Regions from separate parts of the Homo sapiens genome. Here region 1 is linked to region 2. Evidence: fine-mapped expression QTL. A gene starts in region 2. The other region holds a variant in brackets. All regions are shown on one strand. Distances are from middle to middle.

Evidence for each region. PIP is the estimated chance that this variant, and not a neighbour inherited with it, causes the effect. A credible set is the group of variants that fine-mapping cannot tell apart.
Region 1: its variant is the best candidate, but not a certain one, in a credible set for the expression of RAD18 in aorta (GTEx, PIP 0.59).

The regions. Positions count from the first base shown.
Region 1 is chr3:8,860,380-8,863,296 of GRCh38, forward strand. It overlaps LOC107984112 (a long non-coding RNA gene), which reads right to left and starts at 866. Exons shown (of 2, transcript XR_007095814.1): 1 at 1-866. The variant G/A (reference allele first, on the strand shown) is at 1,457.
Region 2 is chr3:8,961,935-8,964,851 of GRCh38, forward strand. RAD18 (RAD18 E3 ubiquitin protein ligase) reads right to left here and starts at 1,538. Exons shown (of 13, transcript NM_020165.4): 1 at 1,401-1,538. The coding sequence starts at 1,451. RefSeq lists an enhancer at 1,386-1,555.

The DNA of each region.
Region 1 (2,917 bases), 100 kb before region 2:
ACGGCCCTGTGACCAGTTACAGACACAAGAATTGTAATTATCATGAGTACTTCCTCCTTCCTTTGTTATGAATATGTGTGCATTATATTTATTATTTATATTAATTAATTATATATAAATAGCTTTGTTTTATTTCTTCTCTTATTCCCTTAGCATGCAACGTAAGAAATTTTGACTAAATATCATAGTATTTAAGCATTGTTAATTTTACATCATAGTATTTTTAGTTAGGTAATATCAAGGAAAAAGATATCAAGGATTTTACCTTATTTCTAGGAAAGGGGCTAGTGTATTTTTTATTGAATGCAGGAGAGTTGCATCACGTTAGGTGGAATTATGAACTTGTTCTTGTCTTTATCTGGAGATTAAGTATGGTTTAAGGAGGTGCTTATGGGTGCCAAGTTGACAAAGGATAGATTCATGCAGGTTCATTTTATGTGTCAACTCTACTGGGCCAGATACCTGGTTACATATTATTTCTAGGTGTATCTGTTAAGGTGTCTCTGGAAGAGATTAACATTTGACTTGGTAAACTGAGTAAAGCAGATTGCTCTCCCCAGTATGGGTGGACATCATCCAATCTGTTCAGACCTCAAATACAACAAAAGGGTGGAGGAGAGTTGAATTCTATCTCTACCCAGTGGTGAGAGCTGAGACATTGGTCTTTTCCTGCCCTTGGCCTGGGACTTACATCATCAGCTCCCCTGGTTCTCAGATCTTCAGGCTCAGCCTGGAATTTATAACACCAGCTTTCCTGAGTCTCCAGCTTGCAAATGGTAGATTACGGGACTTCTCAGCCCCCATAATCAAGCAAGCCAATTCCTTATAATGAATCTCAGCATCTAACTATCTATCTGTCTGTCTGTCTATCTATCTATCTCTCTATCTATCTGTCTATCATCTACCTATCTATCTATCTATGCATCCATCCATCCATCTATCCTATTTGTTCCATTTCTCTGGAGAACCCTGACTAATAAACTCTCCCACCTGGAAAAAAAGTTTTTAAACTATTCAAAATTTGTGCAACAGAAATTTTCAAGAAACTGGTCATCAGGAAAGGAAGGACAGATCCCTAAGAGAAAAGAAACCAGTAAGGTGAGCCAGCCCTACAACTGCCCAGCCCACTGTCTTGAGACAGTCTCCAGGTCACGACTTAGGGATGGGAACCCAGGCAGAGCTTGGCAAACTCTGTTGAGGAAATGCAGCTTAGAGTTCAGAGAGACCGTGGCAGCTAGAGAGATAGGAGAGAGACCAGAGGGGAGATTTCCCCAGAGAAAGCAAAACCTGGAGACCAGCAGAAGGTATCTCTTGGGTCTTCAGGAGAATACTTATTAGGATGTGTAGGAATACTACTGGAGGCAGGGAAAAGAACCATTTGAAAGGATTAGAGGTAACAGTGTCTAGTATTTACACACAGCTGGAAACTGGTCATTCCCACAGCTGGACACAGCCT[G/A]TTCCCACCAGCCAGACCGCAAAAACTCACCATTCACTGGGCACTCAGTAGAGTATTTGGGAAGGTCATGCCTCCATGGTGGGGTATAATTAGCCCTAAACTGATCCTTGTTGTAGACTCCAAAAAATCTTAAAAACAAGACTCTAAAGATTCAAATTGTTTCTGAATAACTCAACTATGCCCTAGAACAAAGATCAAGATTATTTATAAGAATACAAAACATTCAGCTACTGACAAGGTAAAATTCACAACGGCTGGCACCCAATAAAAAATTATTGGGCCAGGCGTGGTGGCTCACGCCTGTAATCCCAGCACTTTGGGAGACCGAGGCAGGTGGATCATGAGGTCAGGAGTTCGAGACAAGTCTGGCCAATATAGTGAAACCCTGTTTCTACTAAAAATAAAAAAATTAGCCGGGAGTGGTGGTGTGCGCCTGTTATCTCAGATACTCGGGAGGCTGAGGCAGGAGAATTGTGTGAACCTGGGAGGCAGAGGTTGCAGTGAGCTGAGATCGCGCCATTGCACTCCAGCCCGGGCAACAGTGCGAGACTTTAATTTAAATTTATTGACCCAGCCCCACTACTATTTATCTCTCTTAAGGTTCAGGAGGCTCTTCCCCACCTTTGAGCTGCCCAGCCTCAGAGACCGTGTTTCCAGTCTAGCCTCTGAAACACCTGGAGCCTGTTCCCTTCCCGGCTGACAGCCGAGTGGGAGGGAGCTCCTCTTCTTCCATGTGTGATGGTGTACTCAGAGACTCCCAGGAGCCCTCGCAGCTGGAAACTGGGCTGGACCCCAGCTCTCATTTCACAAGGGAGGCACATACAGGAAGCCAGTGATGCTAGCAACAGAGAAGCCTGTAGCAGGTTCCAGCTCAGAGAGCCCTTCTGGAGGCCCTGACCACCACCTTTACCCAGCCTCCAGCCTAGAGCAGTGCTAGACCAGATGAGGACATTAGATGGCTGACCTCAAAGGAACCCAGGAAGCCCTCAACTCACCCTTCTTTTATGACTGGGGAAGCTCAGGCCTTGAATGACTGAGTGACAGTCGCTTAAGTTCTCCCTCAGCAAATCTACTTCCGCAAGGCACTGCGACTCCTGCCTCCAAAGTGGGCATGTTCCCTCCAGCCTGAGATGAGTTAACCAACCCCTTGCGGAGGAAGTAGAGCAAAGATCTCATTTCTGGGCTTAGGACAGCCGCGCTACCAACATGGACAGAATGGACGCGGGGGCTGCCTTCCACCTCCCTCAGACGCCCACACAGTCCAGTGGTCCACCTCCCTCAGACGCCCACATGGGCCAGGGTCCTCCTCTATCAGAGGAAGGGCCCCTTCCTTGTTCTTTCCCTTCCTGCCCCAGATCAGAACAAGAAAAGCAGAGACTCCCCAGGCCAGGAGAGCAGGGCCAAGATGTGAGGAGCAGTCATTCTCCTCTCGAGACCTCTGATTGTGCACAGGGGCCAGTG
Region 2 (2,917 bases):
AGTCAAGCTTCATGACAACAAATTAAAAGGGGAAAGAAGCACTTAACACAGTGCTAATAATAATAAAATATATTCATTGAATGCTTACTACATTCCAGATACTTTCAATCAAGCAGCAAATAATATTTGAGCACCCACTTGGTGTCAGGCACTGCAGTAAGCACAGTGAATACACAGCAGAATCTGTGCCCACATACATCAACTAATTTATTTAATCAATCCTATGAACTGTTATTTTTGTCTCTAATTTATAGTTGAAGAAATTCAGGCTCAGAGAGGTTAAGTTACTAACCGAAGGTCATACAGTCAAGAGGCAGACAGGAGATTTCACCCAGGACCACTGGAACTCAAATCTGTGCTCTTCTCCACTGCATCCTGGTGCCAAGCCCACAACTCCAAAACTACAGCTTTCCTGGATCATTTCACAATGTCAGCTTCTCATCATGCAGATATCTCAAGTCCCCAAGCACTCTAGACGTCACTGATGACAGCAGGAAGAACAAGGCCTTCTACTTACTTTAGCCTTCACTTAATTCTAAAGTCAAATTTATGAGTCAGTGGGACAGGTATTATAATCCCCAAGTCTACAAAACTGAGGGAGAAGAAGGCTATCTTAGCCACTGTGAGAAACGGAAATAATCACAGAGCAAGAAGAAACACCAAGCAACTGATCTTTATCCAGCACAGCAAAGTGCATCTGCTCTTGAGCAAATCCAGGGCCCACCACTACTGTAAATGGAAACTGGTATGCCTTGCCAAAACAGAAAGTGGCCACAAAAATAAATGTTATTTAAGTGAAATAATCAGACGCAATGCAAGATCAGCGCTGAGCCTGAGTCCTGATCTCTGTTTAAGAGACATGAGCAATTGTTAGAGAAGAGTGAAGGTGTGTTAGAGAGGAGTTGGGGCAGTATGTCAGAACAAACGAGCACTACGTTTATTGAGAATAATCAGAAGAAATGAAAGAGCCTGTAAAGGAGACTACCTGCTTGGCTACGTGATTACATACATGTTATCTGATAAAGTGTCCACCCAAAATCATGTCCGGTGTCACTGTTTAGTGCTTGACACAAAGTAAGCTTTCAGTAAAGAACAGCTGTCGATGTCATTGTTTGGAATAACTGTTTTTCTCCATGTTATTGTTGGGATTGGATCGCAGAATAGCTGGTGCCATAAGACTGCCAACCTCAGCTCACCAGGCTTGTCCTTGTCACTTATCAGAGGAGTAAACTGAGACCCAGAGCCACGCGGTCGGCTAGTGGCAGGGCAGAGCCGGATACCCGGGCCCAGTGCGACGCTCGCGCCTCATCCTTTCTCCTTAAGGCGAGGACATCCTCCTCAAAGGGAGGGACCTCCCCCCGCAGACACCCGGGAGCTCCCAAACTCCCCGAAGCACTCACCTTCATGACTGCCAGGCCCGGAGGCCACCGAGACTCGGCCAGGGAGTCCATGGTCGCTCCCGAGGATGCTGGGGGTCAGCCACCCACTAGCCTCCGGCGCTCCAACACCACTCGAAATTCCCCGCGCTACCGCATTACGTCAGCAGCCCGCGACGCGCCAGAGGCGGGCGCGGAGCCTGCCGGAAGTTGTAGTAGTATGTGGGCGGGGCGCCGCTTAAGGGCTTGTACTGCGCATGCGCCAGGCTTCTGCCGCACTTACCTTGAAGAAAGTGAATGGTTAAAAAGCGTAGAGCCAGTTGAATATTAAGAAAAGATAGCCAGGAATCAAACCAAATCCAGACCTCACCAGATCTGTCAAGGTCCAGGCTCATGACCCCCCTCCGGGTCGCCCACCCTAATCGCAGTGACTATCCGTCCTTGCTCTGAACAGAAGTTTTTATATCCATTACTTTATGTCTCCCGTATCACAACACTGGGAGGTAGATGTTATCATTGTCAGTTTACACAAGAGAAGCCTACGCCCGAAAAAGTGGATAGAGTTTCGAGTCAGATTCCAAACAGGACCTCTGGGCTTTAAATGGGAGCTGTTGCTTTTATTCATATTAAAATTTTAATGCACGGTTTTTCTTTTTCTTCGGAGAGAAGCACCATTAACTTTGGCATATAGCCTTCTAGATATTTCCTATGCAGATTGACGAAGATTCTTTGCTTGAGCAAACTTTAGTCAGGCTCCTGAACCTTCTCCTAGGCCAATCTGTGTACTTCCTGTAAAAATCCAGTTTTAGCAAAAAACCCTGCTAAATCAAGTTACCAAGAATCCCCACCTTTGATATGTGATCACTCTTGATATCTGATGTGTTCCTCATCCTCCACCATCCCCCAGTTGATGTCTGATCACCCTGGCCTCTTCAGCAAGAATCTACTGTTACCTCTGATGTTTCCTCTTAGTAATTTTTCATGCACTGCTCCCCACCCTGCTTCCTGGCTATAAATTTCCATTTGCCCATGTTGTATTCAGAGTTGAGCCCAGTTTTCACCAATTGCAAGACACAGTTCCAGTGGTCTCTATACCTACTTGAATTGTCCTGATTAAGTCTTCCTTATTGTGCTTTAACAAGTATCATTGAACAATTTTTTTCTTAAACGAGATATAAATATAGATACTTTTTTTCATACATGTTATATTAAATGCATGAGGAATGGAGGTTTACGGTGTCCACCCCCGCCCCCCACTTTGTATCAGCCAATCATAGAACGGCATGCAAATGAACGCAAATGAATGCCAGGCTGAGCTGGAAAATGTCGGATAGTTCTGGATGTGGAGGAAGTGGGGTCTTGGAGAGACAAAGGAAAAGCATTTAAGACCAGGTCCGTGGCCTGAGTGAACCAGTAATTGTTTTTTTCACACTACTAGTTGGACAAGGTAATTAGGTTTAAGGTGACAAATGGCTGGGAAGGTGAGAGAGGAAGAGAGAGGAGATGAGAAAAAAGAGAAAGAATGGGTAAGGAGAAAGGGA